Linked DNA regions of Homo sapiens. The gene in region 1 interacts genetically with each later gene. Each region holds a gene or a part of one and is shown on either strand. Other genes may lie near its edges.

The links.
Region 2: changes in ACACA (region 1) and AURKA together harm fitness more than expected from each alone (negative genetic interaction), as found in Homo sapiens cells (one large-scale study listed by BioGRID).
Region 3: changes in ACACA (region 1) and PROCR together harm fitness less than expected from each alone (positive genetic interaction), as found in Homo sapiens cells (one large-scale study listed by BioGRID).
Region 4: changes in ACACA (region 1) and PMPCB together harm fitness less than expected from each alone (positive genetic interaction), as found in Homo sapiens cells (one large-scale study listed by BioGRID).
Region 5: changes in ACACA (region 1) and SLC35B2 together harm fitness more than expected from each alone (negative genetic interaction), as found in Homo sapiens cells (one large-scale study listed by BioGRID).
Region 6: changes in ACACA (region 1) and CLCC1 together harm fitness more than expected from each alone (negative genetic interaction), as found in Homo sapiens cells (one large-scale study listed by BioGRID).
Region 7: changes in ACACA (region 1) and KIF2B together harm fitness less than expected from each alone (positive genetic interaction), as found in Homo sapiens cells (one large-scale study listed by BioGRID).

What each region holds. Positions count from the first base shown.
Region 1 is NC_000017.11:37,396,837-37,400,336, reverse strand, and holds part of ACACA (acetyl-CoA carboxylase 1), read left to right. Parts: intron 1-3,500. UniProt on the Homo sapiens protein: Cytosolic enzyme that catalyzes the carboxylation of acetyl-CoA to malonyl-CoA, the first and rate-limiting step of de novo fatty acid biosynthesis.
Region 2 is NC_000020.11:56,372,053-56,375,215, reverse strand, and holds part of AURKA (aurora kinase A), read left to right. Parts: intron 1-1,659; coding exon 1,660-1,808; intron 1,809-3,163. UniProt on the Homo sapiens protein: Mitotic serine/threonine kinase that contributes to the regulation of cell cycle progression.
Region 3 is NC_000020.11:35,170,785-35,174,871, forward strand, and holds the start of PROCR (endothelial protein C receptor precursor), read left to right. Parts: upstream 1-1,287; 5' UTR 1,288-1,304; coding exon of another isoform or gene 1,305-1,370; coding exon 1,371-1,440; intron 1,441-3,917; coding exon 3,918-4,087. UniProt on the Homo sapiens protein: Binds activated protein C. Enhances protein C activation by the thrombin-thrombomodulin complex; plays a role in the protein C pathway controlling blood coagulation.
Region 4 is NC_000007.14:103,303,935-103,307,434, forward strand, and holds part of PMPCB (mitochondrial-processing peptidase subunit beta isoform 1 precursor), read left to right. Parts: coding exon 1-106; intron 107-476; coding exon 477-556; intron 557-3,500. UniProt on the Homo sapiens protein: Catalytic subunit of the essential mitochondrial processing protease (MPP), which cleaves the mitochondrial sequence off newly imported precursors proteins. Preferentially, cleaves after an arginine at position P2.
Region 5 is NC_000006.12:44,254,729-44,258,815, reverse strand, and holds the start of SLC35B2 (adenosine 3'-phospho 5'-phosphosulfate transporter 1), read left to right. Parts: upstream 1-1,287; 5' UTR 1,288-1,405; coding exon 1,406-1,416; intron 1,417-1,527; exon of another isoform or gene 1,528-1,634; intron 1,635-1,937; coding exon 1,938-2,131; intron 2,132-2,319; coding exon 2,320-2,474; exon of another isoform or gene 2,475-2,478; intron 2,479-3,171; coding exon 3,172-4,087. UniProt on the Homo sapiens protein: Probably functions as a 3'-phosphoadenylyl sulfate:adenosine 3',5'-bisphosphate antiporter at the Golgi membranes.
Region 6 is NC_000001.11:108,932,485-108,935,984, reverse strand, and holds part of CLCC1 (chloride channel CLIC-like protein 1 isoform 1 precursor), read left to right. Parts: intron 1-1,042; coding exon 1,043-1,315; 3' UTR 1,316-1,360; exon of another isoform or gene 1,361-1,365; intron 1,366-1,439; exon of another isoform or gene 1,440-3,483; 3' UTR 3,484-3,500. UniProt on the Homo sapiens protein: Anion-selective channel with Ca(2+)-dependent and voltage-independent gating. Permeable to small monovalent anions with selectivity for bromide > chloride > nitrate > fluoride.
Region 7 is NC_000017.11:53,821,448-53,825,693, forward strand, and holds KIF2B (kinesin-like protein KIF2B), read left to right. Parts: upstream 1-1,479; 5' UTR 1,480-1,586; coding exon 1,587-3,608; 3' UTR 3,609-3,746; downstream 3,747-4,246.

The DNA.
Region 1 (3,500 bases):
ACCAGCCTGGCCCACATGGTGAAACCCCATCTCTACTAAAAATACAAAAATTAGCCAGGCGTGGTGGTGCATGCCTGTAATCCCAACTACTCAGGAGGCTGAGGCATGAGAATCACTTGAACCCGGGAGGCAGAGGTTGCAGTGAGCCAAGATTGCATCACTGCACTCCAGCCTGGGCAACAGAGCAAGACCCTGTCTCAAAAACAAAAACAAACAAACAAACAAAAATATATATATGCTTGAAAATTGCTAAGAGAGTAGATTTTAGTTGTTCTTACCACACAAAAAAATAAGTATTTGCGGTAATGGGTATATATTTGAGGTAATGGATTTGTTAATTAGCTTGATTTAGCCATTCCACAATGAGTACATCTATCAACACATGTTGTACATCATGAATATACACAATTTTTATTTGCCAAAAAATGTTTAAATATGCCATAAGTAAATTAAATAAAATAAATTTCTTAGAACATTATTTATAAAAATAAAGCAAAAAACCAGATCTGTCCAAATATAACTAATAAACTGACTCTCATTATTTAACACTCAAGAGTTGGCTGGCATCAGGATTTTCATAATACCATGGCCATTAAACAGTTTTCGTGAATCCAGGCCTTCGTTACCCATCTCTTCTGCTTCTTCCTCACCTTACTGACTTCTTTCTCATGTACACAGAGTGCGGAATATCTGTCTCATGAGTCACCAGCCTTTGGGCAGAACCCAAAAAATTAGGTGAACTAGAAATATATTGTTGCTAAGTGGCTCGGTTTATCAGACAATTCTAAAATGCCTACTAGGCTGCCTAGCTGCATACTTTTCTGCCTAATGTACAGGACCTCCATCTTGTGACTGTCAAAACAGGCTCCTAAATTATTTTGCATCATTTGGTGACAGGCAGTCTATACTCTTGTGCAACCAACAGGTGCCCAATAAATGCTTGGAATATGCAAGGAACTTGGCATTGTTTAATATAATTGAAAAAGCAAGCATGGACTTTGAAACTTTCCTGAATTTGAATTCTGTCTCCACTCCTTATCACCTTTAAGAATTTAGGGCCTGGTGCGGTGGCTCATGCCTATAATCCCAGCACTTTGGGAGGCTGAGGCGGGTGGATCACTTGAGATCAGGAGTTCGAGACCAGCCTAGCCAACATGGTGAAACCCCATCTCTACTAAAAATATAAAAAATTAGCCGGGCATGGTGGTGCATGCTTATAATCCCAACTACTTGGGAGGCTGAGGCAGGAGAATCGCTTGAACCCAGGAGGCAGAGGTTGCCGTGAGCCGAGATCCCACCATTGCACTCCAGCCTGGGCAACAAGAGTGAAACTCCATCTAAAAAAAAAAAAGAATTTAGGGAAGTTATTATCTTCCTGCATCTCCTTTCTCCTCCTATGTAAAATGAAAATAATAATGTCTAATTCATAAGCGTTTCATAAGGATATGATGAAAGCCCGATGCAGTAGCTCACGCCTGTAATCCCAGCACTTTGAGAGGCTGATGTGGGTGGGTCACTTGAAGTCAGTAGTTCGAGACTAGCCTAGCCAACATGGTGAAACCCTGTCTCTACTAAAAATACAAAAACTAGCTGGGCATGGTGGCAGGCGCCTGTAATCCCAGCTACCCGGGAGGCTAAGGCAGGAGAATCGCTTGAACTCAGGAGACTGAGGTTGCGGTGAGCTGAGATCGTGTCACTGCACTCCAGCCTGGGCAACAGTGCCAGACTCTGTCTCAAAAAAAAAGCCCGGGCATGGTGGCTCACGCCTGTAATCCCATAATCCCAGCACTTTTGGAGGCCAAGGTGGGCGGATCACCTGAGGTCAGGAGTTCGAGACAGCCTGACCAATATGGAGAAACCACATCTCAACTAAAAATACAAAATTAGCAGGGCATGGTGGCGCATGTCTGTAATCCCAGCTACTCGGGAGGCTGAGGCAGGAGAATCACTTGAACCCAGGAGGCGGAGATTGCAGTGAGCTGAGATTGCACCGTTGCGTTCCAGCCTGGGCAACAAGAGCGAAACTTCGTCTCAAAAAAAAAAAAAAAAAAAAAAGTGATACCACAACAGCTAGAAGAGGAGGCCAAACTGTTTTTTTTTTTTTTTTGAGACAGAGTCTCGCTCTGTCACCCAGGCTGGAGTGCAGTGGTGCGATCTCGGCTCACTACAACCTCCGCCTACCTGGTTCAAGTGATTCTCCTGCCTCAGGCTCCTGAGTAGCTGGGAGTACAGGCGCGCGCCACCACGCCCAGCTAATTTTTTGTATTTTTAGTAAAGACGGGGTTTCACAGTGTTAGCCAGGATGGTCTCAATCTCTTGACCTTGTGATCCACCTGCCTCGGCCTCCCAAAGTGCTGGGATTACAGGAGTGAGTCACCGCGCCCAGCCCCCATTTTACATTTTTTTATTTGTGCCCACTGCCTTTTTTCAGAGGATGCAGTTAGCAATTTCAGCCACTGGATGGTGCAAATTCACAAGAGTCCAGTGAAAGTTCCTCAATTACGGTCCAAGGTGCACCTGTTGCTACACTGCACCAAGTGAAGGAGGGTGGGGTAAAGGAAAGACTTTTTGGATCTGAAATTTCAGTATAAACATGGATCGAAGTTCACTAGAAGTTCAGATTGAGGGAAATTTTTAGAATTTGATCACTGACAAATCAGGTCATTGAATAAGGAAAGACAAAAGAAAAGTGTTGTAATAATGAAGAGGAAGAGAAAAAGGAACAGATGATGAAATATGAGGGAAAATAAGTCTAAAGAGATGAATTCAAGTGTTAGCAACAATTATAGTATGACCCTTTACTGGTTTGCATCTCCCTGGTAACTGATAGCAACTTTGATATAAAAATAAAGCTTACTTCATTCTCTTCTAGAAAGTCAGCTATGCTACCCTTAGCTTATCCATTTGGTGGTGTGACATTATCAACAAATATTTTTAGTATCTGCTATGAACATGGTGCTTTGTTGATACAAAGTAATATAGAGATATACAAATTAACACAGATACTGGGCTTCAAGCAGAAGAACCAGTAAGTACATATAAGAAGATAAGTAATTGACTGGATTAAGAAAATGTGGCACATATACACTATGGAATACTATGCAGCCATAAGAAAGGATGAGTTCATGTCCTTTGTAGGGACATGGATGAAGCTGGAAACCATCATTCTGAGCAAATATCGCAAGGACAGAAAACCAAACATCGCATGTTCTCACTCATAGGTGGAAATTGAACAATGAGAACACTTGGACACAGGGCTGGGAACATCACACATCAGCGCCTGTCGTGGGGTGGGGGGATGGGGGAGGGATAGCATTAGGAGAAATACCTAATGTAAATGACGAGTTAATGGGTGCAGCAAACCAACATGGCACATGTATACATATGTAATAAACCTGGACATTGTGCACATGTACCCTAGAATTTAAAGTATAATACTACTACTACTATTACTAATAATAGGGAAGATAAGTAATTCAAGGCAACCTGAGGGCCATTGT
Region 2 (3,163 bases), on another chromosome or scaffold:
GAGTTCAAGGCTGCAGTGAGGTATGATCATGCCATAGCAATCCAGGCTGGGTGACAGAGTGAGACCCTGTCTCTTAAAAATAAATAAGTAAATACATACATACTGGACTTGTTTGCTAAATCTTAGCGATAGGGACTGTAAAACTTTTCTTTTTCTTGCTTTTTTTTGAGACGGAATTTTACTCTTGTTGCCCAGGCTGGAGTGCAATGGCATGATCTCGGCTCACTGCAACCTCTACCTCCTGGGTTCAACCAATTCTCCTGCCTCAGCCTCCCGAGTAGCTGCGATTATAGGCATGCACCACTACACTTGGCTAATTTTTGTATTTTTAGTAAAGACAGGGTTTCACCATGTTGGTCAGGCCGGTCTCGAACTCCTGACTTCAGGTGATCCACCTGTCTTGGCCTCCCAAAGTGCTGGGATTACAGGTATGAACCACTGCACCTGGCCAGGAAAACTTTTCTTACAAGATGGTAATTCGGTCGGGTGCAGTGGCTCATGTCTGTAATCCTAGCACGTTGTGAGGCTGAGATGGGAGGATCACTTGAGGCCAGGAGTTTGAGACCAGCCTGGTCAACATAGTGAGACCCCCATCTCTATTAAAAAAAAAAAAGATAGTAACTTAAGGAAATAAAATTAACAAAAGGACTGATTTCTTATGTACTTCTATGCTGACTTAGTGTAACCCAAAATTTAACATGCTATTTAATATGTCAGTGCAACTGCTTTTTAGTTTCTGTTTATTGTTCAGGATAATTTTTTCTCCTGATATTCTTGAAGTAAATTTTTAGCTTTAAACAAATTCTTCTGTCACAGAATGACCTTGGTTTTAAAAAAGGGAATTGACTATACTTGCAAAGTTCATTTTTTTTTTCTAAAAAAGAAAAAGGCAGTATTTACACATCTGAATCCTTAATTTGTACCAGTTCTTCAGCACTGTCTTACTTCCTGGCTGCAGGGCCATTTGTTGCCGTATGGTGTTGTAACTTTAGGTTGGTGCAAAAGTAACTGTGTTTTGCATTGACATGGCACCAGCCTAAGAGCTAGCTCTAACTGGCTGAATGTCTTTTCTGACTTTCAACATCACACCAGCTGTATTAGCAGAGATGACTAAGCATTGGGTAATTTCACTTCATGCTAACCACTATAAATTGGTTCAGTTGATGTGTGTGTGTGTGTGTGTGTGTGTGTGTGTGTGTAGACTCCTATATAATTTCTACAATCCTTGCTTTAAAACCTGCAAAATGTATTTTTTGTTTTGTCTTTTCCTTTTTGAGACAGGGTCTCCTTCTGTCACCCAGGCTGAAGTGTGATCATGGCTCACTGCAGCTTTGACCTCCTGGTCTCAAGCAATCCTCCTGCCTCAGCCTCCCAAGTAGCTGGGACTACAGGCATGCACCATCACGCTCAGCTAATTTTTAAATTTTTGTAGAGATGGAGTCTTGCTATGTTTCCCAGGCTGGTCTTGAACCCCTGGGCTCAAGTGATCCTCCCACCTCAGTCCCCCAAAGTGTTGGGATTATAGGTGTGAGCCACTGTGCCTGGCCAAAACCTGCAAACCATGTTAAATCTATGTTGTGTTCCTTTCGGAAGAGATGTCTAATATTAACTTGTGTTATATAAAATCTAAAACATAGGCTTTCAATATTGTTTTAACAGTATATAACAGAATTGGCAAATGCCCTGTCTTACTGTCATTCGAAGAGAGTTATTCATAGAGACATTAAGCCAGAGAACTTACTTCTTGGATCAGCTGGAGAGCTTAAAATTGCAGATTTTGGGTGGTCAGTACATGCTCCATCTTCCAGGTATGTAACTTTAGAGGTGGAAGTTGTTTGGTTTACCAAAGCCCTGGGAGCTAACCGTGAGCTAAATGTAAAATATTTCAGTGTAGATTTTGTGCTGTAAGAGGGGTAGGTGGCTAACCCAGAAGTACTTTGGAGTAATTTAGGCTTAATAATAAACTAGGGTTTGCAAGAAAGTGTTATTCTGTGGAGATTTGGGGCTATTAGCAGTGTTCTAGGCCTAGGGTTGAAGATGCTTAATGTCCTTAGAGGCTAATGAAGGGATGAATGAGTCAACAGATAGGACACGTATATGACAGAGGTGAAGTGCCCACATGTTGAGTGGGAGGAACTCTTCACCTCTGCTGCTTCCTGGATGAGGAGATGGGGAGATGGTTCAGAGGACAGCACTGACAAAGATCTAGAGCTCAGAGTGCAGGCCATATCAGGGAACTTGAAACACTAAATTAGTTTGGTGGTGCTTTGAGGGCAGTGGTGAGAGATTCTCTTCAGTCTGCCTCTGTCAATAGTAGGGATAGTCCTTTCTTATCCCCTGTCACAGCTGAAGCAGAGATGTCAGTCTCAAAACAATTCAAATCTTAGCTTTCCAAGTGAACTACAATATCTTTACTGTTTTAAATTTGAGTTTAAATAAGCTTTGAAACTTCACATGAAGTGGGGCATTTTAAAACATATATCTACCGATGAAGTTTTGTCAACTTTGGAGGAGGACTCAAATTATAGCCAAATGACTTAAAAATCAAGCTAGTTAAAAAAAAAGTATAGCCTAAAATAGAATATGAGGGAGAAAACCTTTGCTTTTGTTACAGAGCACTTCTAATTGTTCCAGCAATGCACTGAATCTGCTATTGCAGTCTTTTTTTTTTTTTTTTTTTTTAAACTGGTTGTCATTAGTGGGAGCTGTTATCTGGTGAGACAAACCAGAATAAAGACTTACAGGCTTCATGGAATCGCAGAGTTAAACTGTATCTTAACCGGTTGAATTGTGATAGAAAAGATGGCTTCTTGCTTTTTGAAAAGATTACTTACATAACCGATAGTCACTTCACTCCAAATCCCAGATGTTAATCATCATCATTTCCTGGTTATTGCCTCAGTTTGAGAACCCCCGATTCAGTCCGTCGGTGCTGATGGAGGGGTTAGATGACCAGAGTGGTAGCTTCTTAATCCTACGTCACAATTCAGTGGTGAGTGACTGTTTGTGTGCTCAGTGGGTGCCAGGCCTGGCTGAACACAGCACCAGGGCTGTGACCACGTAAGCCTCCATGGTGAAGAGCAGCTGATAACAAAGCAACACGAACCCACACAGACTGTTCTGGCTTGCTGTCTGCTGTTCCCAGCTTTTTTCCAACCTTCGT
Region 3 (4,087 bases), on another chromosome or scaffold:
TGCTTCACTGCACTATAGCCTGGGCAACAGAGCTAGACCCTGTCTCAAAAAAATAATAATAAATTTTATATATATATATGAGGATGAAATTACATATGTATTATTTGAACAGAAGTGAAATCTTTTCTTTTTTTTTTTCAGACAGAATCTTGCCGCATGACCCAGGCTAGAATGCAGTGGTGTGATCTCGGCCCTCTGCAACCTCCACCTCCCAGGTTCAAGCGATTCTCATGCCTCGGTCTCCCAAGTAGCTGGGATTACAGGCATGCACCACCATGCCCAGCTAATTTTTGTATTTTTCGTAGAGACGTTCGCCATATTGGCCAGGCTGGTCTCAAACTCCTGGCCTCAAGTGATCTGCCCACCTCGGCCTCCCAAAGTGCCAGCAGCATGCTCGGAGGAGTGACTTTAAAGCTTTTCTACTTGCTTCCTAGAGTAAGGGACGCATTTTACACTGCTATCCAAAACTCATCATAGAAACATACACACACAAAACCAAAGCACACATATACAACTGAGCAAATATTTCATGACATAACACTTTCTCTTACTAAGGGTGACGCGCTGAAATTTTGTATTCTGTCCTATTTCATTTTTTAAAAATGGTAACCATGACCTGCTAAATTGATTTCATTGTCCACTAATAAATTATGACCTCAGTTTCAAAAAGATTGCTTTAGGTAACCAATCATCTTCTGAGATTTATACAGATTGCTCATAATTCTCTCCTATTTTTTAAAAACATGCTGCAGTGAACTGCTTTACACTCATTTTATGACTACTTCTGAGACCAAGATCCCGGATTATGTAATTGTTATTTACTTAAAATTCTGGTAAAATGTAGCCATTATACTGGAAAACTAAATTTTAATCTTGGATCTGTCACCACCATGATATATAAACTTTGGGCAAGTCCCTGCACCTCTCTGGACCTCAATCTCCCCATCAGCAACCTGCTGATCCTACTCCCAGGAGTGTGCTCTAAGTTGAAAGTAGATGCCCCACCCCCTGAGTCAGCGCCGGCAGGACTTCTCACCAAGCCCTTCTCCCCCTTTTCCGCTCCCTGTTCCTGGTTCCTAGGAAGCAGCCCAAGGAGAAGGGAAAAGGCAGGTCTGGGCAGGAGGGAGCAATGAAGGGCGGGGCAGAGGGAGGGCAGGAGGGAGGCCGGCCCCCTAGTAGGAAATGAGACACAGTAGAAATAACACTTTATAAGCCTCTTCCTCCTCCCATCTCCTGGCCTCCTTCCATCCTCCTCTGCCCAGACTCCGCCCCTCCCAGACGGTCCTCACTTCTCTTTTCCCTAGACTGCAGCCAGCGGAGCCCGCAGCCGGCCCGAGCCAGGAACCCAGGTCCGGAGCCTCAACTTCAGGATGTTGACAACATTGCTGCCGATACTGCTGCTGTCTGGCTGGGCCTTTTGTAGCCAAGACGCCTCAGATGGTGAGTCGGGGGCACATCTCCTGCCTCAGGATGGTTCTGGAGAATCTCAGTCTATCTGGGCACATGGCAAGACCACAGGAGAGCTTATCTCACAGCATCTGTGTCTGCAGCTGGCTAGATCTCTCTACAGGGCAGGCAGAGTCTTGGGGACTGGTTCGTGTCCCAAAGCCAAGGTGAGTTAGTACATTTAAGCCCCTGAAAAGGGGGAGATGAAAGAGGCTAGGGGAAACAGGATGACTGGAAACATGAGAAAGAAACCAGCAGAGAGGGTAGGAGAATCAGCCCCAGGGAGAGGGGAGAAAGGGGAACTGAGGGTGATGGTAGATAGGGGTACATCTAGGGGAGACGGGAAGAGGCTCAGAAGAGAAGAGAAATGGAGGGAATGGGAAGACCCTGGGAAAACTGATGGAAGAAGTGGGGGAAGAGTGGGGCAGAGAGAGGTTAGGGGAGGCTAGGGAAAATGGAAGGAGACTGGTCGCAGCTGGTGGAACTGGGGAGAAAGAGATGCTGTGCCTAATAGAACTTATGGGCGATCAGGCTACTGAAGTGGCCCTGTTTAAGCAGAAAAGGGAGTTATTACCCTCCATTATAATTGCACAGGGGCCTCCTTTCCCCTCTCTCACAATCCCCGTAACTTCAGTCTCCCCCTCAGAGAGGCAGCAAATAATAACCAGTATTCAATGAGTGCTCACTATGGTTAATACATGTATTGACCCATTTAACTTGCACAAACCCCTAAAGGTGGGTAATATTATTACTATCTCCATTTTATGAGGAGGAAACTGGGTCACAGAGTAGTTAAGGACCATGTCTAGGGTTATCCATAAATATACTTATTCACATCTGCAGATACAAAGCACAACTTCTCAAATGCAAACACAGACAGGACCCACTCACACACACAGATTTACAACCCCGGACTCATCCAAATGTGCTCTGGGCATCAACTCTGTGCCAGCCTCTTTTCTGGGTGTAGGAAGCAGAGATTACCAAGCATGGTTCCATAGCCTAGAGGAGTCCAGTGTGGCCTGTGTGTGTTTGGAGACAGCCAGGTAGTATCCCGTGAGATACACACTAATATATGGTGGTCTGGGATCACTGAAACAGACACACTGTGTCTCGTGGGGCATCAGAAAAAAATTTCCAAGAAGAGGGCAACTGAGCTGGGTCTTTTTTTCTTTGCTTTTCTTTCTTTTTTCTTTTTTTTTTTTTTTTTTTTTTTTGAGATGGAGTCTTGTGCTGTCACCCAGGCTGGAATGCAGTGGCACAATTTCAGCTAACTGTAACCTCCAACTCCCAGGTTCAGGCGATTCTCCTGCCTCAGCCTCCTGAGTAGCTGGGACTACAGGCATGTACCACCACGCCTGGCTAATATTTGTATTTTTAGTACAGATGGGGTTTCGCCATGTTGGCCAGGCTGGTCTTGAATCCCTGACCTCAAGTGATCCGCCCGCCTCGGCCTCCCAAAGTACTGGGATTACAGGCATGAGCCACCGCGCCCAGTCTCTGAGCTGGGTCTTAAATCATGAATAAACTTCGCCAGGCAGAAAAAGGGAGGCAGAGCAATCCTGACATGCTATTCATGTGTCAGCCAAAGGCAGCATGAGGAATCCCAACTAGTTTGATATATAAGCAGCGGGAAGCGGCCAGAAAAGGCAGCAGGGGCCAGGTCTCTAGCAGCCTTGAATGCCAGGCTAAAGACTCTGGACTTGATCCTGTGGGGAGGCAGTGTAGCAGAATGGCTGAGTGCTGGACTTGACTGCCTACGTGCAAACCTTGGCTCTGCTACACTATCTCTGTCTCAGTTTCCCATGTAGACTGGGGTTAATAATAGTAGCTATTGCATTAAGCCACTGGGGAAAGGCACAAAGATAATAATGTATGTAAAGCCCATTGCCCAGGTTATAATAAGCACTGAATCGACATTGGCTATGATTATTTTTGATTAATGAAGGGGAGGGGGTTATGGCACTGGAAGATTTTAAGTAGGAAAAGGACATGATCTCATCCCTGGGTCAGGTGGAGGTCGGAATAGAGAACGGGGAGATGAAGTAGAAAGTTACTACCCCAGTCTAGATGAGACGGATGAATCCTGAATCAGGGCAGTGGAAGAGGAGATGGAGAACAGGCGATGGAATTGGAATTTTATTCAGGTCAGGATTTGTTAACCATTTGTTCCGTTGGTTAACAGGAAACGGGGGGAGGGAGAGCCGAGGGTGAAAAAGGAGGCAGAAAGGAGTGTCTCTTCCACTGCAGGCCTCAGTTTCCTCATCTGTAAAACGGAGATAATAATCCCTGTCCTGTCCTCCTGGCAGAGTTACTGTCAGCGTCAAACGGGAGAAGCGGTGGGAGGGCACATTATAGTTTATGAAGGGTCGAGAAGGCGGGCGGCCAGCCTCGAGGTAGGGGGTTATTATCTTCCGCTGCCCGCCGCCCCCTCCCACGCCGGCCCAGGCTGAAGCTGACTCTGCCCGCAGGCCTCCAAAGACTTCATATGCTCCAGATCTCCTACTTCCGCGACCCCTATCACGTGTGGTACCAGGGCAACGCGTCGCTGGGGGGACACCTAACGCACGTGCTGGAAGGCCCAGACACCAACACCACGATCATTCAGCTGCAGCCCTTGCAGGAGCCCGAGAGCTGGGCG
Region 4 (3,500 bases), on another chromosome or scaffold:
AAGTTGAAACCAATTTACAAGAAGTTGTTTTTGATTATCTTCATGCCACAGCTTATCAAAATACTGCACTTGGACGGACAATTTTGGGACCAACTGAAAATATCAAGTAGGTATAACAGAATTTCTTGGTGTATAAGGGAATTTATGAATGTTGAAAATAAACATTTACAAATTTTCAAAAAGTATGTTTCAGAAAGTAATTTTCCCCCTGGTAATCTAAGTGAAACTGTAGTTAGCTACATTTTAGTCCCACCTAGCTCCCAAGCACGTGAGTTCATAGGTACTTCGGGAATAAACCAGTAATGGTGTATTTTTTCTTTGATGTAAAAAAGGTGAAGTTCTTTGATGTGTTGCCTGTATCCTATTTCTGACTGCATTTTAGGATACAGTTATGGTCCAATTTGATTTCAGGTATATTATGTGAAGATCTGTTTTTTTTTTGGTTTCCTTTAAAAATTGTTTTACTTCATTTACAGATCTATAAGTCGTAAGGACTTAGTGGATTATATAACCACACATTATAAGGGGCCAAGAATAGTGCTTGCTGCTGCTGGAGGTTAGTCAATTTAAATTTCTACAAATGTTTTAAACACAGTTGTTGGAGTGGTATGCTTATTAGTTTGATCCTGTTGGGAGATACCCTAAGAATTTTCATTTACATAGCAAATAACTGATAGTGTGTAAGGGGAATGTGGAGCACTGGAATCAGAATTTCCCTCTATTTTTTTTAAAGTAGGTTTCATTTAGGCCAGGCATGGTGACTCACACCTGTAATCCCAGCACTTTGGGAGGCCGAGGTGGGCGGATCACGAGGTCAGGAGTTCAAGACCAGCCTGACTAATATGGTGAAACCCCATGTCTACTAAAAATACAAAGTAGCTGGGCGTGGTGACATGCGCCTGTAGTCCCAGCTACTCGGGAGGCTGAGGTAGGAGAATTGCTTGAACCCAGGAGGCGGAGGTTACAGTGAGCCAAGATTGCACCACTGCACTCCAGCGTGGGCGACAGAGTGAGACTGTCTCAAAAAAAAAAAAGAAAAGTAGGTTTTATTTATAGAAAGACTTAATGAACTGTTCAATACATAAGCGTACATAGTAGAACGTGCAAGAAAAGGGCAAAGGAGTGAACTGGGAGAGAGTCGGAAGATGGTGTTCTGTACTTTGAGAATTTTTTGAGATTTTAAATTATTTCTTGAGAACCAACTTCGTCCTTGTTCAAGCATGGAACGGGTATGTTCATTCTTTGATTTGTTCAATCATTCATTTAATAGATCTAATTTTTGGGAAGGAGAAGCACATAGGGAGCCATAAGAATGTTGAATGGGAATCCAAACATGCAGGTGACTTCAGAAGGTTTCCTTGAGGTCATGTTTGAAGCCAGTGAATGAAAAAAAAAATTGACAACAGATATTGCCAGATTTCCTGGCAGTCTGAATCTAGACAGCAGTACATTTTAATTGGTTTCCAGTTTTTTATTTTTTTCTTTTTAAAATACATTTATAGAAATAGAGATGGATTCTTAACTATGTTGCCCAGGCTGGTTTCAATCTCCTGAGCTCAAGTTATCCTTCCACCTTGACCTCCCAAAACTTGGGGATTACAGGCGTGACCCACCGCACCTGGTCTCCAGTTTTCATTTCTTTGTATTTTTTAATATTAGAGCAAAGCGAAGTGTTCTTTCGTGTTGTAAATTTTTCTCTTTTTAGAGATCATAATTTAAAAATTCTAGTTGCTCTGGATTGATTTCTGAGCTAAGTACCTGGCGGGTAATGGAGAAGATGAAAACATTAAATATCAAACATGTTATTCATTGTAGCTACCTTCATTGTACATGGCAGGAAGTGCACTCTGAAATTCTCTTGAGTAACATTGTTTCTAAATTGGCTCTTGCAGACTTGGGCTTAAGTGTTTGAAACTGCCTTGGAAATGGGACAAGAGACTTGTTAGATGGGTCCTCAACAACCAAGCTTTCTGGGACCTCTCTGCCATTGTTGGTGGCATGTGGACAAAATGAGTTTTACTTTGGTTCATGGGTTCATTTTGACATAGCTAAAATTGAGATATCTTTAGTTTAATGGCTTATAGATTAATTAGTATTCATTTTAAATACTACATAAGTGATGTGCCTTATAAATGATTGCATCTTAAATTCAATGAAATAGGCCAGTTTTAAGTTTCTGCTGACCTCTGAATTATGTCTTGGCTACCATTTATCTCTTCTAGGCTAATCATCAGGATGTATAGCTTTTATTTGCCAAATAGTTTTTTGTATCCTAGCTTCATTTATTATAAAATTATAATTTAACATTTTAATTGTAAATTAAGTTAAAGAATCTTAATTTGGGTCTCAAGTAAGGGATATAGAGTCTAAGTAATTCCTGAGTTTTTGCATTTGGATACCTATTGATGTATTCAGAAATTTAGATGACACTATTTTGTTCCTGAGTTCTTTTTTTTTTTTTTTTTGAGATGGAGTTTTGCTCTTATTGCCCAGGCTGGAGTACAATGGCATCATCTTGGCTCACCGCAAACTCCGCCTTCCGGATTCAACTGATTGTCTTGCCTTAGCCTCCCGAGTAGCTGGGATTACAGGCATTTGCCATCACACCTGACTAATTTTGTATTTTTAGTAGGGATGGGGTTTCTCCATGTTGATCAGGCTGGTCTACCTCTACCTCTGACCTCAGGTGATCCGCCTGCCTCAGCCTCCGAAAGTGTTGGGATTACAGGCGTGAGCCACCACACCAGGCCCTGTTCCTGAGTTCTGATAGCAGAGCATGGAGAATAAAGTTTATCTGTGTATCCAGCTTTCTTTTATTTATTTAATTTTATTTATTTTAGAGACAGAGTCTTGCTCTGTCACCCAAGTTGGAGTGCAGTGGTGTGATCTCAGCTCACTGCAAACTCCACCTCCTAGATTCAAGCAGTTCTCCTGCCTCAGCCTCCTGAATAGCTGGGATTATTACAGGCGCCTGCTACCATGCCCAGCTAATTTTTGTATTTTTAGTAGAGACAGGGTTTTACCATATTGGCCAGGCTGGTCTTGAACTCCTGATCTCAAGTGACCTGCCCACCTTGACTTCCCAAAGTGCCGGGATTACAGGTGTGAGCCATGGCACCCGGCTTTTAAAATTTATTTTATTGAGACAGAGTCTTGCTATGTTGTCCAGGCTGGTCTTGAACTCCTGAACTCAAATGATCCTCCCACCTCAGCCTCCTAAAGAACTGGGATTATAGGCGTGAGCCACCATGCCCAGCTCCAGCTTTTTAAAAATTAGATAGAGCCCATATTTGTATTTTCCACTAAAAAATTTTTTTTTTGAAAATTGGCATTTTTTGCTAGTTTGGATCCCAGAGGTTTTTATAATTTAATAGAAAATGATTTTGTAAAACGTGGAGTTTTCAAGTTGTCTTATTCTTAGCTGTGAATCCATTGGTCTGTTGATGAAAACTGTCATTTGCTCTACAAAATGAGAAAGCTGTGCAACCTCAAGCTTTGCA
Region 5 (4,087 bases), on another chromosome or scaffold:
CATCTTATTGCTGTTGAGGACCCTGAAACACCGTTGTTTAAAGACTTCACACAGAAGGCTCTGAACTGAGCCACTGGGGAAGGGAAGTTTCAGTAACATGACACTAAAATGGCAGAGACGTTAAAAAAAGTTTTTCCCTTCTAGAGCTGTTTTGCGCGCATGCATGTCTGTGTGCATTGGGGCTTTTTAGACAGGCCTGCCCTGTGACTTTGTGGTAGAGGCAGAGAGAAGGAAATTGTCCCCTGAGCACGGTAGGGCCTTGCTGGGTGGGGTCAGAGGCCAGTAGTTCCAGGCCTTTCTCTGTGTCCAGCACAGACCCTTGTCCTTGCTGTGGAAATGATGAGGGATGGAGGGACAAGAGGAAGAATGAGAGGACACACGCCCTGGAGCCCTCACCACTGCCCTGGGGGTTGCCATCTGGAGGAGCCTGGGGATAAGGGTAACCCAGGGAGGCTGGGCACGAGGGAGCTGACTCCACGTTTTTCCCCCCGTTCCTCACCTTCGAGGGCCCTGCTAGGTCACCCCTATGCTGGCATGAAGAGCATGGGGCAATAAACCAGCACAGTCTCTGACCACTTGGAGCGTCTCATCCAGTGAGAGAGACAGCCGTTAAAAGCATAAACATCCAAATAAAGATGCCTTTCCAAGTTGCAGTGGGTGCTATGAAGGGAAAAGAATAGTGGGAAGGAAAAGGATGGAGTCGGTAGAGGGTCATACTTTGGGTGGTCCGGGAACCCTCGCCTGAGGAGTATCATCTCAACTGGGATGTAAGGATGAGTAAAGGGATGGGGGCAGAGCATTAGGGGGAAAGCCTGTGAATTAGAGGAACTGAGAGCAAGCCAGTGGGGCTTCACAGCGGGCGAGTGAGTGGGCGAGGAACGCGGGCGAGGCCATGTAGAGCCTCGAAGATCATGGGAAGTGGGACAGAATTACTACCCAGCCAACAAAGCAAGGAGACACCTTCATCCTGTCAGAAAACGGGGAAACTAACACAGAGGAGCGGCTTGGGATGCAGAGCCTCAATGTCCTGTCCACAAGATGGCAATGGTCACCATGACCTCTGGGACGCTTATGAAGGGCGATGACGAAGCACAGGGGACACGCCGGGCGGGCGCCTCTTCAGGGCTGGGGCTCCCCGCGCCCAGGGGCAGCCCAGGTCCCCGGAACCCAAGCCGCGTCTGCCTCCGGGCCGCGCGGGGGCGCTGTGGTCCGGCGGCGGCCCGGGGCGCTGCGTGGTCGCGGCAGGGGCGGAGGGGGCCGCGGGGAGGGAGGCGGGAAGAGCGCGGCACTTCCGCTGGCCGCTGGCTCGCTGGCCGCTCCTGGAGGCGGCGGCGGGAGCGCAGGGGGCGCGCGGCCCGGGGACTCGCATTCCCCGGTTCCCCCTCCACCCCACGCGGCCTGGACCATGGACGCCAGGTGGGGGCTAGGGCAGCAGCGAGCTCACGTGACCGAGCCCCCGGGCCACGTGACTGCCGCGCCTCAGCACGGGGGCCGGGTGGGGTCCCGGCTGCTCGGCCGTCGGCCAGCATATCGCTGCCCGGAGCCAGCGGGGATGGGAGCTGCGGCTTGGTTTTGTGCTCCTTGGGGAGCTTCGGGCGGAGGGGCTGGGGACCCTGACGTCCCGGATCGTGGAGGGGAGTGTGGGGGAAGGGGCGCTTCCTCTGACCTGAGCAGCCGGCTAGCGTTGGAGGGAACAGAGGAGACCTGTGTGGCCAGAGGGGCGGATCCGCCCCCGGGGAGGGAGGAAGCTCTGCCTGGCCAGCGCCGGCGCACCCCCTCCCCGAGAGAGAGAGAGAGAGAGAGGCTCTTTGTCCGGGCCGGAGCTGCAGCGGAGGGGGCGGGGAGGAGACTCCGGGCACTACTCCAGTGTGGTCCCCTCTGGAGGGCGGAGGGGATGAGGAGCTGCGCCCTAATCCTTATGTCCGCTTTCCTTACAGATGGTGGGCAGTGGTGGTGCTGGCTGCGTTCCCCTCCCTAGGGGCAGGTGGGGAGACTCCCGAAGCCCCTCCGGAGTCATGGACCCAGCTATGGTTCTTCCGATTTGTGGTGAATGCTGCTGGCTATGCCAGCTTTATGGTACCTGGCTACCTCCTGGTGCAGTACTTCAGGCGGAAGAACTACCTGGAGACCGGTGTGTGAAGAAAGGGCGGGGAAGTGAGCTAGGTCGGGAAAGAGGGTATTTGGCCAGCAGTCCAAACGGGATATGACTTGGAGAGGGCGGGAGGTCGGTAGGCCGGACAGCAGGGCAGGCTGGCTGCTCTGGGGAAGATGAAGTGCTATGGAGAAGATTTGGGGCTTGACTTTGTGTGCTTTCTTCAGGTAGGGGCCTCTGCTTTCCCCTGGTGAAAGCTTGTGTGTTTGGCAATGAGCCCAAGGCCTCTGATGAGGTTCCCCTGGCGCCCCGAACAGAGGCGGCAGAGACCACCCCGATGTGGCAGGCCCTGAAGCTGCTCTTCTGTGCCACAGGGCTCCAGGTGGGTAGGTGGGCTCAGCCTCTCTTCCTGGGTTGGATGCCGGTGGGCAGGGATTCTGTGAAGGTTTCCATTTTACCAGTCCCAGAGCTTTGCTGGCTGGTGTGTTTCGTGTCCTCCTCCCAGGGGCACACTGCACCTCCATCTTTGAGGTGTTTGGGGGAAATGCCCTTTTGTTTCTTCCTTTTCTCCTCTCCAGCACTGGTACTGAAAGTTCATGCTGTTATTTCAAGATGTCTAGTGCAGAAGAGAGGACTCCTCTTGCCCTATTCTCTGTGATTTCTACTGTGCCGTTATTATACTTCCTTCCTGCACTGGTGTCTCACATACTGTAAACCCACTGATAAAATTGTGGGGGAGCCATTCAGCCTTCCCCCAGTACTGCATGTGAGAGAGTGCTAACATGCTGACCCCATGGCATTTTGCAGTGGGTACTAGTTCCACCTTGAATATCATGTTGAACTACAGATACCCAATTCTGAGAGTTCTTGCCTCCCTGAATAGGTTTTTCACACACAGTTGATTCCCTACAAGGTGAATCCAGACTTAGGAGGGGAGAAGAAACTTCTACAGAGGAACCAAAAAGTGTATATTTTCCTTTGAATCACTTAGGCATAATCCTGAAGAGAGAGAGGTCAATTTTTGTCTACCTTTTCATTATCTTGCTTATTGTCTCCTTTGTCTCTACCTTCCCCAACAGGTGTCTTATCTGACTTGGGGTGTGCTGCAGGAAAGAGTGATGACCCGCAGCTATGGGGCCACAGCCACATCACCGGGTGAGCGCTTTACGGACTCGCAGTTCCTGGTGCTAATGAACCGAGTGCTGGCACTGATTGTGGCTGGCCTCTCCTGTGTTCTCTGCAAGCAGCCCCGGCATGGGGCACCCATGTACCGGTACTCCTTTGCCAGCCTGTCCAATGTGCTTAGCAGCTGGTGCCAATACGAAGCTCTTAAGTTCGTCAGCTTCCCCACCCAGGTGCTGGCCAAGGCCTCTAAGGTGATCCCTGTCATGCTGATGGGAAAGCTTGTGTCTCGGCGCAGCTACGAACACTGGGAGTACCTGACAGCCACCCTCATCTCCATTGGGGTCAGCATGTTTCTGCTATCCAGCGGACCAGAGCCCCGCAGCTCCCCAGCCACCACACTCTCAGGCCTCATCTTACTGGCAGGTTATATTGCTTTTGACAGCTTCACCTCAAACTGGCAGGATGCCCTGTTTGCCTATAAGATGTCATCGGTGCAGATGATGTTTGGGGTCAATTTCTTCTCCTGCCTCTTCACAGTGGGCTCACTGCTAGAACAGGGGGCCCTACTGGAGGGAACCCGCTTCATGGGGCGACACAGTGAGTTTGCTGCCCATGCCCTGCTACTCTCCATCTGCTCCGCATGTGGCCAGCTCTTCATCTTTTACACCATTGGGCAGTTTGGGGCTGCCGTCTTCACCATCATCATGACCCTCCGCCAGGCCTTTGCCATCCTTCTTTCCTGCCTTCTCTATGGCCACACTGTCACTGTGGTGGGAGGGCTGGGGGTGGCTGTGGTCTTTGCTGCCCTCCTGCTCAGAGTCTACGCGCGGGGCCGTCTAAAGCAACGGGGAAAGAAGGCTGTGCCTGTTG
Region 6 (3,500 bases), on another chromosome or scaffold:
TATTACAATGGCCTGGAAGCCTCCTTGGTCTCCCCTTCCCCCACATCCACTACCTCTCTGGTCACCTCTTCTCCCTCCGTGCTTACTCTACTTTAGCCATAAGGGCTCCTGACTGTTCCTTGAACTTGAGAGCCTTTGTACCTGCTGTTCATTCTACAGTCTTCATTTATATATCAATCATATGGTTACTTTCTTCAGGCCTTTACTCATTTTTATTATTTTTGGAGACAAGGTCTCACTCTGTGGTCAAGGCTGGGGTGCAGTGATCATAGCTCATTGCAGCCTCAAAATCCTGGGCTCAACCGATTCTTTTGCCTCAGCCTTCTGAGTAACTAGGACTATAGGCATATACGACCATGCCTGGCTAATATTTTTTATTTTTTGTGGATATGGGGTCTTGCTGTTACCCAGGCTGGTCTCAAACTCCTGGCCTCAAGCAGTCTTCTCACCTTGGCCTCCCAAAGTTATGGGATTACAGGTGTGAGCCACCATGCCTAACCATATCACTTTTTCAGACCACCCTAATTTAAACTGTAATTTGACCCTGCCAGCCCACCCACATTCAGCACTCATCTCTTCTCTGCTTTTTTTACATAGCCTCTTTAATTCAACATATCACACTTGTGTGATTTTCTTCTAACCTAAATATAAGTTCCAGTGAGAACAGTTTTATGTATTTTGTTCCTGCTGTATCCCTAACACCTAGAACTTAATATATGCTCAAGAAATATTTGTCAAATGAATTATTCTCACCAGGCAAGAGAAGTTGACAATACTGATGACCAATTCTCTTGACCCCTTCTAAGCTGGGCCACTAGACCACCCAGTATATGCGCTAAGCGTTCCCACTCCTCTGTGGGAGTACTGTGGAGTTTGGTGAGGTATAATAACATTTATATAATTATAACCCAGCACTGGACCCTGGATTTGAAAGAGTTTGGAGCTTGCTACAACGGATTTGGGTGGGAACTTTTTAGATATGTTTGATTACTAAGACTTCACATTACATTAAACAGTTAAAATGTAATTTTGTACTTTATAGCATAAATCACCTGTTTTGGATACAAAGCCCAAGGAGACAGGTGGAATCCTGGGGGAAGGCACACCGAAAGAAAGCAGTACTGAAAGCAGCCAGTCGGCCAAGCCTGTCTCTGGCCAAGACACATCAGGGAATACAGAAGGTTCACCCGCAGCGGAAAAGGCCCAGCTCAAGTCTGAAGCCGCAGGCAGCCCAGACCAAGGCAGCACATACAGCCCCGCAAGAGGTGTGGCTGGACCACGTGGACAGGATCCGGTCAGCAGCCCCTGTGGCTAGAGGAACACCAGCACAAACGACAGCCTCAAGTCTCCTTCGAGCTTTGTAAAGTATACTCTTCACTCTCTTTCTCTTCTCTGCAAGAATTCTGATTACTACAAAGGTGCCAACTTCAACATTCACATTTCAACTTCAACATTCACATTTTTACTGACAATTAGAATTAACAAACACGTTATATATGTAAAAGCTTTTCATTTCATCTTCTCTTTGATATTTACATCCCATAAAGTAAGAAGTGTTTATTTTAAGATGAACAGATGACAGGCATCACTGATTCTGGATAGTTAAGGAGGCCAGTTTGAATTGGGGACATTGAAAAAGAAATTTTATTGTTACAGGCACTTACGGGAACCCACTAACCAATTTACATTGCCTAGTGAATCCACTAGAGTTAAGGCCACCCACTTGATGCCTCCAGCATCTTCATGCAGCCATGGAGTATCGTTACCAGGATCAGTCTGACTGACACCTCAGCTTATCTCTACGCAGGCTGCCCACAGGTCACTGTGGCTGTAGTTTCATCTTTTCCACAGCTATTACTACGCCTGCATCCTTATTGTTCCTTTTACTTTGTTTACTTAGAGAAAACTGAAGACTGCCAGGGCAATTTAGATAACATAGCTTGTTATATTGGTAATCTGTTTTACAGAGTCAGTCGACTGAAAATGACTTTATTCTTTTCCCCCACCAATTGAAGTGCATGGGCTTTTTATAAAACCTATTTTTTGTGTTACTCAGAATCCTAGCAGTGGAGACTATTAGATATTACCATATCTTAATTCATATTATAGCAAATCATATTGTCTTGTCCATAGGAAGTTTGCATTTTTAGAGATCTATACATAGAGAATACCATGATGAGGAAGAAGAGAGTTGGGTGTCTTCCTTAACTGCAGACAGGACATCAGTCAGCACTTTACATTAGTCTTTCTGATTATCAAAAGCATTCCTCATTTTAAACTTTTTAAAAAGCAATGCATAAATTTTGTACCTGTCCTTAGCAGACTTCACAGACATCAGGTGTCCTTTGTTTTAACCATATTCACACTACAAGTTATGTTCAACTGCTTACTAAAAGTGATACCAGTCAGGAATAAAGTCTTTAAATTTTCATGCAGATATTTGTATCCCAAGCACTTGCTTTTTTATTTTAATATGAAATGCAGAATACACATTTTTGGATCCAGGAAGTGTTACTTACGTGCCTGTAACAATGTAATTTTAGGCCAGGTGCAGTGGCTCATGCCTACAGTCCTAGCACTTTGGAAGGTTGAGGGAGGATGATCGCTTAAGTTCAGTTGTTGAAATGCAGAATACACATTTTTGGATCCAGGAAGTGTTACTTACGTGCCTGTAACAATGTAATTTTAGGCCAGGTGCAGTGGCTCATGCCTACAGTCCTAGCACTTTGGAAGGTTGAGGGAGGATGATCGCTTAAGTTCAGTTGTTGAAATGCAGAATACACATTTTTGGATCCAGGAAGTGTTACTTACGTGCCTGTAACAATGTAATTTTAGGCCAGGTGCAGTGGCTCATGCCTACAGTCCTAGCACTTTGGAAGGTTGAGGGAGGATGATCGCTTAAGCTCAGTTGTTCAAGGCTATGTACTAAAAATAAAACTAGCCAGGCATGGTGGTACACGCCTGTAGTCCCAGCTACTTGGAGGGCTGAGGCAAGAGGATCGTGAGGTGGCAGTGAGTTATGATCGAGCCACTGTACTCCAGCCTGGGTGACAGAGCAAGACCTTGTCTCAAAATTATACATGTTAATATATTCTAGTTTAATATTGCAAACATCTTTAGAATTTCATCAGAAACGTGATTTTTTCTAAGAAATGCAAAAGGATTTTAGGATTTTTAACACAGAGGACATGTTTAACAAATGAATCCTGACAGACACCTGCAGTTTAGAATAAATTTGTGAACATCCATGCGTATAAAGTGTCCTCTTGGGACAAGACATGTTCACACTGACTTGGGGAATATGCCCCCAAGGTGAGAGCTGTCTTTTGAACTGTGATCTGACTCTGAAAAGTAGTGAATGCCCCAGGTGATAGACTGTAACTGTGAGTGGAATTAATGCTGCTTGCATGCCTTTTAATCCAAAACCAAATTCTTTTAAAAAATTTTTAAATAAAATTTCACCTTTGTATTCTTTCATTACAGATATCCATTTGGGGATG
Region 7 (4,246 bases), about 16 Mb from region 1:
ATCAGGCCACTGTACTCCAACTTGAATGACAGAGTGCTAATGACAAATACAGTGTATTAAGAATATCTACATCATGGCCTTGAAACCAAGAAAGAACAACTGATTTAAAGCACAACTTTAAGTATTGATAATTTGGGGAAATAAAACATGATATTTTTTAGAAGACAATTGCCTAAAGCCCTTTCTCCTCTCCCTCCACCTGCATACAACCTCCTCTTGAAATGAGCACTGCTTACTTATCTAATTTATCCAGTATCCTCCTTCCACCTTCTTTTCAAAATCTAAGCTTTACTAGACTGACTGAACAGAAAAGTTAGTTTATAGTAGAATTTATTTCTATAGAGGCCCTTATTCCTAGGGAAGGTTGTAACTTGCTACTTCATGTTACTTTGGAGCTATAATTATGATAAAATTCAACAGTCCAAAAGACAACATGCACGGGTGTTGCTAGTGAGCTGAACGTAAGGCATCACCCTTACTCTGAGCTTGGCCTGTCTAAAAGTCAATGTCATTTATTTTATAAGCTAATTCTTATGCATGAAAATATTGCAATCTTGGCAAAATATATTTTTGCATCCGATGGTCTTAGCTGCCTTCCAGCCTTGCTTAACAACTTCTAAAGGACACACACAAGTACTGCAGGGGTGGGGGGAGTATAAGATTAATTATCTCTTTCCACACAATGCCTTTTCTTTCTCTCCCAATTATGGATAATGAGGCCAGAAGTGTAATTACTGAAGGAGTTTGGAAAGGTAATTACTGAACTAATCTCAAAAATGGTGGTGACCACAGCACAACAAAACTCACTTTATAGCTGTCAGAGCCACTTGGAATGTGATACACATGTTGTGTTTGCAAACCCAGGTGCTGTACGAAAGGTAGTTTCATATTAGCAAATTACCACAACGACCTGCTACATTCTACTCATTTTGATTTTGTAATGAGAAAGCCGATTAAACTGTAATAACTTTAAGTTGTGACTCTTAAACAAGTTACACGTTTTGAAGGAGGTGAAAAAACAAAGATGGCGGGTTTGAGGAGCCTTTCTGGGATCCTGTTGAATATCGAGTCCTGAGATTTGCAAATAGCTCTACCTTCATCTATTCCCACTGATCACTGGAGAGTTAAAGTTTAAGGAAACTTCATAGCAATTCTCAAATTAAAGCACTGAGCTTTGAGACTGCCAGCCAAGGCCTCCTTTTATGCTTAGGCATAAATGTACACGGGACATATAAATTAAATTTCAACGCCATGGTTCCCGTTGCTTCTCTGTTACCTGTTCTTTCTCGCCATGATCCGGAGAGCACGCCACATCCTCCTCCAACCCCTTCACCCTCACTGGCAGAGAACAATCTCTCCATCCCTTTGTGCTCCCGTACCATTCACTCCTAAGCCCTAGGTTCTGCCGCCTCATCTCATCCCTTTGTGACGTAGTGGCCCCAGTCCGGGCCCCGGCGCGCTAGGCTCACAAAGGCAGGCACAGACTGCAACCCTGCTCAGTGCTCCGGGCGCTTCAGGCTGGCTTGGGTCCTGCTGCTCCAACCCCAAGGGCCCTGGAGCGCTCCCTGATACCTCCATCACTCACCATGGCCAGCCAGTTCTGCCTCCCTGAATCCCCATGTCTCTCGCCCCTGAAACCCTTGAAGCCACATTTCGGAGACATCCAAGAGGGCATCTACGTGGCGATCCAGCGCAGTGACAAGCGGATCCACCTCGCTGTGGTCACGGAGATCAACAGAGAAAACTATTGGGTCACGGTAGAGTGGGTGGAGAAAGCAGTCAAAAAAGGCAAGAAGATTGACCTGGAGACCATACTCCTGCTGAATCCAGCTCTGGACTCTGCTGAACACCCCATGCCGCCCCCGCCCTTATCCCCCTTGGCTCTGGCGCCCTCTTCGGCCATCAGGGACCAGCGTACCGCCACGAAATGGGTTGCGATGATCCCCCAGAAAAACCAAACAGCCTCAGGGGACAGCCTGGATGTGAGGGTCCCCAGCAAACCTTGTCTGATGAAGCAGAAAAAGTCTCCCTGCCTCTGGGAAATCCAGAAACTGCAGGAGCAGCGGGAAAAGCGCAGGCGGCTGCAGCAGGAGATCCGAGCTAGACGCGCCCTCGATGTCAATACCAGAAACCCCAACTACGAAATCATGCACATGATCGAAGAGTATCGCAGGCACCTGGACAGCAGCAAGATCTCAGTCCTGGAGCCCCCGCAAGAACATCGCATCTGCGTCTGCGTGAGGAAGCGGCCTCTCAACCAGCGAGAGACAACCTTAAAGGACCTGGATATCATCACCGTCCCCTCGGACAATGTGGTTATGGTGCATGAGTCCAAGCAAAAGGTGGACCTCACTCGCTACCTGCAGAACCAGACCTTCTGCTTCGACCATGCCTTCGATGACAAAGCCTCCAACGAGTTGGTGTACCAGTTCACCGCCCAGCCACTGGTGGAGTCCATCTTCCGCAAGGGCATGGCCACCTGCTTTGCCTATGGGCAGACGGGAAGTGGGAAGACGTACACCATGGGTGGAGACTTTTCAGGAACGGCCCAAGATTGTTCTAAGGGCATTTATGCTCTGGTGGCACAGGATGTCTTTCTCCTGCTCAGAAACTCCACATATGAGAAGCTGGACCTCAAAGTCTATGGGACATTTTTTGAGATTTATGGGGGCAAGGTGTATGATTTGTTGAACTGGAAGAAGAAGCTGCAAGTCCTTGAGGATGGCAATCAGCAAATCCAAGTGGTCGGGCTGCAGGAGAAAGAGGTGTGTTGTGTGGAGGAAGTGCTGAACCTGGTGGAAATAGGGAATAGCTGTCGGACTTCCAGGCAAACACCTGTCAACGCTCACTCATCCAGGAGCCATGCAGTGTTCCAGATCATCCTGAAGTCAGGACGGATAATGCATGGCAAGTTTTCCCTCGTTGATTTAGCTGGGAATGAAAGAGGAGCAGATACAACCAAGGCCAGCCGGAAAAGGCAGCTGGAAGGGGCAGAGATTAACAAGAGTCTTCTAGCCCTCAAAGAATGTATTCTGGCTTTGGGTCAGAACAAGCCTCACACCCCATTCAGAGCCAGCAAACTCACACTGGTGCTCCGGGACTCCTTTATAGGCCAGAACTCCTCCACTTGCATGATTGCTACCATCTCTCCGGGGATGACCTCTTGTGAAAACACTCTCAACACTTTAAGATATGCAAACAGAGTAAAAAAATTAAATGTAGATGTAAGGCCCTACCATCGTGGCCACTATCCGATTGGACATGAGGCACCAAGGATGTTAAAAAGTCACATCGGAAATTCAGAAATGTCCCTTCAGAGGGATGAATTTATTAAAATACCTTATGTACAGAGTGAGGAGCAGAAAGAGATTGAAGAGGTTGAAACATTACCCACTCTGTTAGGGAAGGATACCACAATTTCAGGGAAGGGATCTAGCCAATGGCTGGAAAACATCCAGGAGAGAGCTGGTGGAGTACACCATGATATTGATTTTTGCATTGCCCGGTCTTTGTCCATTTTGGAGCAGAAAATTGATGCTCTGACCGAGATCCAAAAGAAACTGAAATTATTACTAGCTGACCTCCACGTGAAGAGCAAGGTAGAGTGAAGCCAATGGCGAGAGATCAGGTCCGAAATGCTGCATTGCTGCAGTTTCCACCACTCTTATACAGGAAAACTGTCCAAATTATCTAAAGATCCTCCTGAGAAGCTTAAAACATCTTAAAATACACTGATGGGAAACATGCTCTTTCTTCTGCCTCTGTATTTCTGTAGTTTGTTTTCATCCTGCTGAACTATAGTTTTCAACAGGGAATGGTTCCTCCCCACCCCCTACCAGGACATTTGGCGATGTCTGGAAACATTTTTGATTGTCACAACTGGGGGTGATGAGGATACTGGCATACAGTAGTTTGAGGACCAGAAATGCTGCTAAGCATTCTAAAGTGTACAGCAGCAGTCCCCAACCTTTTTGACACCACAGACCGGTTTTGTGGAAGGGAGTTGTTCCGTGGGTGGGGTTGGGGATGAAACTGTTCCACTTCAGATCATCAGGCATTAGTCTCCTAAGGAGCATGCAACAACCTATATCCCTCACATGCACAGTTCACAATAGGGTTCATGCTCCTGTAAGAATCTAATGCTCCTGCTGATCTGACAAGAGGGGGAGCTCAGGCGGTAATGCCCGCTCACTGCCAGCTTGCCTTCTGTTGTGTAGTGTGATTCCCAAAAGACCACAGACCTACC